Regions from separate parts of the Homo sapiens genome. Here region 2 is linked to region 1. Evidence: fine-mapped expression QTL. A gene starts in region 1. The other region holds a variant in brackets. All regions are shown on one strand. Distances are between the middles of the regions.

What was found. PIP is the estimated chance that this variant, and not a neighbour inherited with it, causes the effect.
Region 2: its variant is the best candidate, but not a certain one, in a credible set for the expression of FGF12 in thyroid (GTEx, PIP 0.50).

Annotation. Positions count from the first base shown.
Region 1 is chr3:192,724,381-192,729,765 of GRCh38, reverse strand. It overlaps FGF12 (fibroblast growth factor 12), which reads left to right and starts at 2,225. Exons shown (of 6, transcript NM_004113.6): 1 at 2,225-2,282; 2 at 2,443-2,585. The coding sequence starts at 2,573. It overlaps LOC107986056 (a long non-coding RNA gene), which reads left to right. Exons shown (of 3, transcript XR_001740579.2): 3 at 1,212-2,043. It also overlaps the pseudogene RNU1-20P.
Region 2 is chr3:192,008,910-192,014,301 of GRCh38, reverse strand. The region is part of intron 2 of LOC105374277 (a long non-coding RNA gene); the gene reads left to right. Among named protein-coding and RNA genes, the nearest start is that of FGF12-AS1, 230 kb to the left of the region's middle. The variant A/T (reference allele first, on the strand shown) is at 2,315.

The DNA.
Region 1 (5,385 bases):
TTTGATGAGGTCAAGATATTCCAGCAATGACTATGTAAGCAAAGGTAAGAAAAATCTTGACAGAGGAGCTATCATGAGCAAGAAGGTTGTTTTCCCAGTCAAGGCTTATCAATTGCATTCCAGATGTGCTGACCCCTGCAATTTCCCCATACGTGGGAAACTAGACTGCATAATTTGTGGTAGTGGGGGTCTGTGATCCCACTTTCCCCTGGTTTAAAAACAATCTTGAGGTTTGTTTAGGATAATAGCAATTGTTGTCTAGGAGTTAAGCTTGGAGAAGAATGGAAAGATCTTGAATGTCAGAACACAAATTTTGCATTAAATTTGATTTGCTTTCTATTTAATAAAGCAGCTGGGTTCTTAAAATTATGAATAAAAATAATGATAATTTATGAACTAGAAGGTTCTCCCTGTTCTTATTCACTGTAGATAATGGGAAGGCAGTTATATGAAAAATCATTCTGGACTATAGATGGCTTGCCTCTGCCTTTGAGGTATGACACTTAGGTTCTGAGCCCAGATCTGGTTCACCATGTGACTCTTTTCAAGTGCCACTCCTCCCCTGCCTTTAGTTTCTCCGTCTGTAAAAGAATAAATATGAAGAGTACATAGAGATGCATTCTAAAGATATCTCCTATTCTAAAACCTTTGAGAAGGAAAGAACATGTAACGGGGTGCAGTATTAAGAGCAGAAATTATTTATCTCAATGAAATAGACTATTGTTCTTAAGGAGCAACACTACTCCCACCCTAAGCTTACTTCCTAAGCCTATTCAACATTGAAAAGAAATCCTGAATTTTATGATTCTTCCAAACACGTACTTTGGCATACAGTTGGAGAACCTAAAAATTAGTAGGCCCTAGGTTGTGGCCTCTGCAATCCGATACTCCTAAATGCTGAATGGATCCAGGCGTTGCTGACCCACAGCAGTTCATTAGTGGGAGTCCTCCACTAATAATGTCCATGTCTGGCTGAACCATCCGTGGTTAATATTTGTAATCATGGCCCTCAGGCATTGGAAAAATCAAAGGATGCCCTCTGAATCACCAGAAAAAGATTAAATTAGATACAACTCCAGGTTTCTTGTTGGGAGTACATTTTATTATATTTCAATGTTTTGAAAATTGGGACTAGAAGCCTACTGTGGAAGGATCTTTCATGAAGTAGAGTATGTGACTAATCTGCACATCTCCTTCCTTAACCATTTCAGATAACAGAGTTTTCTGGACTTCTGGAGAATAAGATTATTATTCTCAAGGAGAGATGATCACCTCAGGAAAATCTGGACTATTGAAAAAAAAAGGTAGTAAATACAACACAATTTTTCCTGTTAAACATTTTGCATATAAACGAAATACAGTGTGGGCTTTAGAAATATTTTGATATGAAAGTAGCACTTCAAGAGATTTGTGGTTTTGCATCTTCCTCTAGAGCTCTGTACAAGAAAAATACTCTATCCCTGCAACTTCACAAAAATGATTAGGTATTGCTTTTGGAAGTACTTATTATCAATAAGACGCCTCCCCACCTTTGGGGACTTCTTGCAGGTTGTTGGAAAAAAGCTAAAAAGAGCACCTCAAAATATCCTCAGTGGCTTTTTTGAAGAACTTTAGAAGCCTTGGAGCCTGCTCATGGAACAGTTTTGAGGTGGAGGCAGGCAGGAAAACACTGAGTTTGAGTAACAAAGAAGCGAGAGAATATTAACCTTTGACAGCTCCATAACTACTCTCACCCCACTCTCGAAAAACAAAACAAAACACATACAGGAATATAACAAGCAATGTGAAGTCAGTGGGGAGAGGAGAGGGAAGCAGACAGCTGGAAAGTTACTGCAGCAAGTAGAAAGAGAAACCCAAATTGTGAACATTAAAAACGATTCGTAAATCTCTCCTCCCTGCCTTCTGAATAAAACCATACCCTGCCTGGAGACACTAGCCTCCTCTAAGACTTCAGTAATTCGTCCTGATGCACGCAGTACTAGTCCAATCCATTTTCTAGTTTGCAGAGGAAAATCCGGTCCGGCGTTTATTTTTAGCAGCGCTTCCCTGTGACCGAATGCTACAGCTCCTCAGCTGGGATAACTGAGGACCGTATTGGGGAGGGAGGCGAAGGGGGCGGGGGAGCGGGAGGCGGTGAAAAGGGGAGGGGGGACGCCCTGCGCATGCGTGCCAGCGCCCATGCAAATCTGCTGTGCATCCAGAGAGCAAAGTGGGATGATCTGTCACTACACCTGCAGCACCACGCTCGGAGGACAGCTCCTGCCTGCAGCTTCCAGACCCAGGTAAAAAAAAAAAAAAAAAAATCTGAGCGGGCACTGTGCATGCATTTCAGTATCAGATGCGCGTCGCAACGTATCCCCTGTAGAGGCAATCTGCTGCTGCTCCTAAGTGTCCTTTGGTGGCTGATTGCAGCTTCAAGGTTTAAGAAATCCCATCTTTCAGGAAGCCTGAGGGGAAGGAAGGAAGTACGGGCGAAATCATCAGATTGGCTTCCCAGATTTGGGAATCTGAAGCGGGCCCACATCTTCCGGCCAACTTCCATTGAACTTCCCAGCACTCGAAAGGGACCGAAATGGAGAGCAAAGGTATGTGGTTGTCCCTATCGGGGGACTTCCCGCTGCATGTGCGTGTGGCCAAGGCAATCCTCGGCGAGGGGACTGCAGTGCTTGGGGAGCGAGCATCATACTAGGTCGATAGAGGAGGAGATGCTATGTCCATTGCAGCACTGGGGAAGTGTGGCAGGAAGGCGACTTCTTTTTAACTCCCACAGCTTGGAAGACAGTGTTTAATACTCCATCAGTTGCGTAGTGAACTGTGATGAGTTTTTTGGGGGGAGGTGGGGAGAGTCCCCCCAAAATGGAGGAGGAGGAGGAGGTATGTGTTAGTAAAGCAATATCTTTTCTGTATAATGGATGGACTCAAATAAATCTATTTCATTTGCTTTAGAATTGCTGACAGGCACGTTTGTACCTGATATCCAATAATGCATTGCTAAAAAAAAAATGTTTGAATTTCACCACCCCCACCTCATGAAGATGGTATTTCTGGGTGTGTATGACCACATCCTACTGCATTTTGAATATATATCAGCAGAGAAATTGGGTCTATTTGGAACAGCATGCGTTAGAACTGACCTCTAAGAAGAACAGTGTATGGGAGTACTGCTTGGCTTCCAAGCATAATGCATTTACTAGTTCTGGACATGTACATATTAATGTTCTCCTCATAAGCAAATCTGCATAATGTATGCATGCCAACTGATAAATGAACTGTAAAAATCAACTTCTGAATGGCATATTGAACACACATAAACACAACGACTATTCTAACCACAAGATTAGATATCTTTTGGATTTAACCCCATCTATGCAGGTCTGTTTCTCCTTCTCCTTAAAACGCCCACCAGGTTGTGAGAGCCTTGAGTGATATGGTGGTCAGATATCCAGGAGGCATACTGGATGTATTTAATTCTGGCGAAATCAGAAGAAATGATGTCAACTTTTATGAAACTATATTCATTACCCAGAACTCGGGAAGCTATATTTGAAACAAGATTTTATTTTTAAACCAGGAATGTCAGTCACTGTGGTAATGTACTTAGGATCAGGGAATGGTGGTGAGTTACCTATTTCTGGGCTGATTAATGAAACTGGAGTGTTGAATGATAGCAGTTCTATGTTCAATAAAGTGTTTTAAGTATTTAATTGGTAGATTTAAAGTATTTGAACCTAGGCAAGCATTTATAGTATAAAAAGAGCTGAATCAACATGGATTAAGACTAGCAGGCAATTTTCAGTTCAGGCAGATTATTCTTATGATACATTGATGGGCATCTCCACGTCTGACAATGATGTACACATATGAGAGAATCCATGTCTATAAGTATATTTGAGGCATATATTATTAACTCTATTATACTCCATTTTAAAATAAAAAGGCAGTCCTTAACATATAAAGGTTTGTAATATTCTAGCTGACTAAGTATTTCTGGGACATAAGGTTAACAACAGAAAAAGAATATCATTTTACTATGAAACAGTTTTTCTTGCTTAGATGACACCTGGTATTTGGTCACTAAATTTAGTTATTTGACAAAGGTTCTTGGTAACAGTTTTGCCTCCAATGTGTATACTAATTCCTGTTCAATCATAAAAAGAGGCTATATCTCTCGGCAGTAATCTTTTATTTTCCTTCGTTGCCCATAAAACATGCTACGTGTCACTTAGCATTCCAGGTGGTTTAATGATCATATTGCTAACAGTAGAGTTCTAGCTGTTCTTTCAGTCTTTTGAATTCAGAAAGGAGAAAGAATCTCAGAAATACATCCGAAAAGAATCAGTTCAGAAGTTCTATGTCAATCCAGACAGCAATGATATAGTGAATCACAGCACTGATCCAAAGGCAACGAAGACTTTTGCTGTAGGCCAACATTGTGGTCATTTTGCAGAGGTCCCATAATTGCCTCTGAAAAAAAAAAAAAACATGATGAAAGTCTTTATGCATGTTAGTTCCTGGACTTTCTTAATGAAGCTGTGTTAGCTGCTTGGCAATCAGATTAAAAATGGCTAATTACTTATACATTGGCCTCACTTTCTAAGTTGGTGCAAATGGCACAGCTAACGATGGTAGCTAACTTGAAATTTTTATTCCAGCCAAAAAGAGTGTATTAAGAGAAATGTGTATTTGTGCAATACTGTAATTGGTGCATCTTTCACATTTTATGCTGCCGTGTACAAACTTCTTCCCCCAACAGATTCAAATCTAATTCTAGGAAGACATTCTCAAATGTATGTATATATAATACTTTTCTAGTAGAAACTCTTTAAAGATAGAGTCATATTGCGTGACTCAGTTGAGGGTTCAAGAGTTCTCTATCCCATACCCAGATCTAATGGCCTGTTTAATCTTGAATCCCATCGCCAACACTTGACAACTTTCACATTACCTCTAGCATTTGACAGCCTTTCTTAGAGCATTTGTCCAGCATCCAGAAAGTTGAACTTCAGCTATTTACAAATAAGATCAATTTATTTTTGCTTCCTTATTTACAACTTTGCATCACTCCCTGTCATACAGGGTAAAGAAGAGAGGAAAATACATCAGTTGACCTGAGGTTCAATTCATGATCTAATTTCAGCGATTTTTGTGCACCATGTACTTAACATTGTCTCAAAGATTTGGGTTGGTACGCAGTCCGAGCAGCTCTGACGGAATTTGTGCCTTGCGTATCTTAAGGGCTTGAGATTCTTAAATGAGTTAAAATGTTTAGTATTTAGAGGAGTGGTTCACAAAGTTTGCTGCACACTAGAATCACCTGACATACTTTCTGAACATACTCATCCTGAGATGGCACCGCATACCAATGAAATTAGAATATTGGGGTGG
Region 2 (5,392 bases), 720 kb after region 1:
AACAATCTTGTGAGGTCTTGAAAAATTTATCTTTACAGATGAGAAAATAAGGATCAGAGAATTGATCTGCCTAAAGATACCTTATTAGAAAGTGTGACACTCAGAACTAAAGTCTAGGCCTCCTGGTTCCAAATTTTTTGTTCTTTAGTACCCTATATAGATGAGAAGTTCACCTGGAAAATTACATGCAAAGTAGGCAAATCATGATTAGAGTAATGACTCTGAAAACATGTGTTTGGCACGACCTCATCCAGAGGACCACGTGAGATACTTTGAATACATCTTGTGTATTATAGACCAACATTTCCCTTTCTGAGGACTGTGGAAGCTAGTGGGAGAAAGTGAAAAAAATATAATGACCTATGAGGAAAATCATAAGAGACACAATTTCACTAATCCTCAGATTCCTTCTTTATTTAACAACTTTTTCCTTTTTTGTGTAGTTTTTATTTTATATATTTTTACATAGTTAAGATCATGTCATGGTTATATATTATATCTTTATTTGTTCACATAAGTCATAATCAATTTTCAACGTCACTTAAATTCTTTGTAGGTAATATTTTTATTATATGTATAATATTTCACTTAAACATATATACAATATTACTTCAATGCTTTCCTAATGTTAGACATTTAGGTTGTTTTCAATTTGAGACTCTTTTAGATAACATTGTGATGAAATTATTGCTACTCTTTTAAAAGTAGAATACTATTACCTATATTGTATTGTTTTGTTATATAAATCATTAACATTTATACAACATATATATTTTTATTTATATATGATTTATATCAATAGCAATAATTAGAATGGGCAGAAATTATGAATCTAATCTAGAGGTGCTCTAAGTGGTAAACTATAGATAGATAAAGGTAGGGAGAAAGAAAGATGTAGTAAGAAAGAGAAAGAAAGAAAGAGAGAAAGGGAGAAAGAAAGGGAGAAAGGAAGAGAAAAAGAGAAAGAAAGGAAAGAAAGAAAGAAAGAGAGATAAGACAGAAAAAGAAAGAAAGAGATAAGACAGAAAGAAAAAGAAAGAAAAAAGAAAGAAAGAAAGGAAGGAACGAAAGAAAGAAAAAGAAAGAGAAGGAAGAAAGAAAGGAAAAGAAAATAGTTTAAGCAAGGAAGCATAATGAAGGCATTCTGGGACAATGTATTTAGAAACCAGGGGATATATTTCCTTAGAGGATAAGAAGAATTATATGTAAAGCAAGAGCAAAAATTGTTAGGGATGGGTTAAATGGGTTGGTACATATTTATTATTTGGAGATGTTAGCATGAGGCAATAGAAGTCCTCTGTAGAATTTGATTACTATGGGAGTCCTAGAAAACTTGATGTATTAGTCAGGGTCCAAACAGGAGACAGAAAACACAGTAGTAATTTGACAAAGGAGATTTCATATAAATAATTTTAAGTAGGTATAAAGTTGCCAACAAATAAAGAATAATTCTAAGGTGTAGGAGAGGTGGAAACTGTAGAAGCTGCTGCCATCCTTATAGCTGAGAAAACAAAAGGAGCAAGGGAGGAAGGGTGCTGTAGATCTTTAAGTCACACTGCTCAGGAGGGAGTTCCGCTTCTGTGCTGCTGTTGTCTCTGAGCTCAGAGGTCTGGCCTCATGGGTTCTGGGACTCATACCTCTGAGGAAGGGATGCTGCTGCTACAGGAACAACTGCTAACTATTATGAGGACAAAGCTTTCTTGAGGTCCTGATCATGAGAACCACAAGGTCACAAAGAGCCCTCAGGAAAACACAAAAGCAAGTCCTGTCTTCTTCCAAGTATGCAGCCTCTTTGTAGCAATTTTTGTTGACCAGCTCTAATGGAAAGGCTGCCAAAGCACAAGTTTGCAGTCCCAGCCTCAGCATTTCAAAATAGAGTATAGAAGGGTGGGTTTGAAGTTGAGAAATATCATAACAACAGGCACTATTCATATGTTCTTACATGAATTAAATAAGAGGAAAATTGAAGATAATACATTTATTTATGACGAGCCACTCAGCCAAAACTCCTTCTTTACTTCTTGGGTTTTGGAAATGGAAAAGCTTAAAACTAAAAAATTCCAAGAATCATTTTTTGATGCTTTTTTAAAAAAGGGAGCTACATTAAAAATCACATATGGGTCAGAGTTCCTACTTTGCCACTAGATTATCTACTATGACCCTAAGTAAACTATTTCCTTCTCTTAGGCTCAGTGTACTCTCTAATCCAATGAATCTATGTCATTGCATCTAATAAAGCTTTCGTGAGAATCAAAATGAGGTATGACACAAGTGCTTTGTAAATCACCAAATCATTGGTTTTCTTTCCAAATCC[A/T]GATAGTTTCTAACATGACAGGATGAACTTCTGTAATATCTCTTATATTTATTTTATATTTATTCTTATTATAAGCACCTTAGTTTACTTACATATTACATGAACCTTTCTGAGCAGAATTTAATCTCTGACTTTATTTTCTCTCCTATGTGTATTTCAAACATTGATGGATTTTTGGATTAATCTTACATATTATTGATTGAAATGCATCACTATCTTATCTACCTATTGCTCAGTAACTTCAGTCTACACTGCCCAACTTGTGGGCACACACGATTTCACAATTATTTTACATCTTATTACATCTTCATCTCTACCTACATTTGCTAGTGTCTTTCTCCACAACATATTTTTGTATCATTGAAAATAGGCATATTCTCCTTTGACCTTCTACAACAGAAAAGTTTATTCTGTGTGAGCACACGGTACATGCATGTTTGTATGGAAATCTCTTTATTTTATAGCATATTTTGTCATTTGTTGACAACATTCTCCTTAAGAGGTGGTAAGCCTTCAGGGATTAGAGGCCATTTTTGTATCAGTGCCTCTTGCAGTATTTTGTAGGTCAGCAACAGACAATAGACTTGTTGCATAATGTATTAGAGGAAGACTTGGCAGAACTTTGTGTTCAGTGTGGTACAAGGGATGAAGGAGACAAAGAAACCAAAGATGACTCATAGTTGTGAGCCTAGGAGTGTTAAGGACTTCATGTAATATATACATTTGGAAAAGATGGATCAGAGGAAGGTCATGGACATTTGTAAACATGCTCAGATTTAGTTTTAGGAGAACGCTTAATTGAATTCTATTCAATTATTAAACTTTTTTTAGAGATTAGGCAAAAGAACAATAAGCAATGTTATGGTTATAGATTTATACCTTAGAGGTTGAAATTTAAAACAAACAAGTAAGTGAATTTCTTAAAGCCTAAGAGAGTGCCTTTCACAAAATAAATTTTATTAAACAGATACCATGTGCAATGAAACATTGGTGAATACAATGGACAAAGTTCTTAACTTCTGAAGCTTGCAGATTTACTGCTGTAAATGAGTAGAGGCAAGATAAAAAAATAAAACCCATAAGTTTGGGTTCTTTCATATTCAGTCATTCAACAAATATTTTTTGAGTGTCATTCATAAACTAGTTTTTGGGCTATATTCTTGGGGATATAGCAATAAATGTATCAGAGAGTTTACGGTCTTATAAAAACAAGTAATATAAACTTGATGAGTGTTATGAGGTGCAATAGAGTAGCATGCTTTGAGAACACTTGTCATGGGTACTCAACCTAGAGTAGGCTGTCAGGAAAGACCTCTTGGGAGAATGAGGCATAGGGATGCAGCTGGTGGGAGAAGTGTATTTTGGCAGAGAACATAATGATTGAAGAACCGAAGGTGAAAAATAGTATATCAAGTTCAGGAGTGTAAATAGCACTGAATGAAAATATGGTAGGGATGCAGTGTAGTGTGTGTGAAAGGACTAGAGATACAGGTGTGCCCACATAATGGGGAACTCTGTAAATTATGTTACTAACTCAGAATTATATTTTAAGCACGTTGTTAAGCCACTTGTAGCTATGAATAATTGATAGAATAAATTGAAATCAAAGAAGCTATCACCAAAATATGGCTCTAATTTCCCCAATGACTACGTTTAACTGAATGATGTCTACTTTCCTTTCTCTCTTCTTTGAAAACATTCTAGTAAGATCTGTCACCCTCCATTTTAAAACTGCTTTATTGAGTTATAACTCAATTCAAAACTATATACAAATTTAAATTGTGGAATTTAATACATTTTGACATATGTACATGCCCATGAATCCATCATCACAACCAAGACAATGCACATATGCATCACTCCTTAAAGTTTCCTCATCCTCTGTGTCATCCTCCTTTTCTCACCCCCTTACCCTACCCTAATCTCACCAGCCCTGATCTGCTTTCTGTGACTGTAAATTGGTATTCATATTCCATAATTGTGTGTAAGTGGAATAAAACACGATGTGCTCTTTCTGTTTGTCTTCGTTCACTTAGTATAATTATTTTGAGATCCATCCATGCAGTTGCATGTATCAATAGTTCATCCCTTTTTTATAGACCAGCAGTATTTCATTAAGTGTACAACACTTTATTTATCCATTCACCTGCTCATGAAGATTTGCTTTTCCTCACACACTTGGGTTACCAGTACTCAGCTGAAGACTTGAGGGACCTCTCTACAGCTAGCTATCTAGAACTCTCTGTTTGCTCAGCTCTGTCTTCTCCAGTATTCTGTCTAGAGAAAGCTGAACAACTTGACATCCCTGGACCCTCAGGTCTCTTAAATTAGGGACACCACTGGGCTTTTTTAGATTCCTTTCCCTGCCTCTCCATAGGGATCTAGAACTCTCTCTTTGCTTAGCTCTTTCTCCTCCAGTACTCCCTCTAGAAAAAGTTACACACGATGACATCGCTGTACCCTACAGTCTGTCTTAATTTAGCATGATGGCTGGGCTTTTTTCAGGTTCTTCTTCCTGCACAATGACCTGTATACTCTCTATAGATTGTAAGCTGGGGGCTATCACACAAATTACTTTATTTTTTCCCTCCTCAATCAGGAATCACTGTCTTGGGCTGCCTGATATCCAACATCTAAAATCTGTTGTTTCATATATTTTACCTGGTTTTGTTCATAGTTTCCATTGTAAGTGTAAATCCAGTCCCTGTTTCATCATCATGGCTAAAAGTGGAAGTTTCTTTTTGGTAATATTCAGTTATAGAAGTCTTATTTTTATAACTATGACTTATTTTAATGTATTAAAGATATAGTCGAGTCCAACCACAAAATGCCAGCCTCTTGTTCATTTCCATGCCTCACTCCTCTTTTAAATGGATGCCTCGCTCATGGCTCAGGGATCTGCAGTGGGAAAGAAGTCATAGTCTGTTTTCTCACTCTTCTTCTGGCTCTTTCAATTATCATAATCTCTCAAGCTGTGGACTCTTCTGAGGCTGGGGCAGGGGAGTGGAAGCCAGAAGAAAGGCGGGTGGGCTTTAGGTAATTTTTACTATTTTATTTGTACTCTTTGGTTTGATGCCC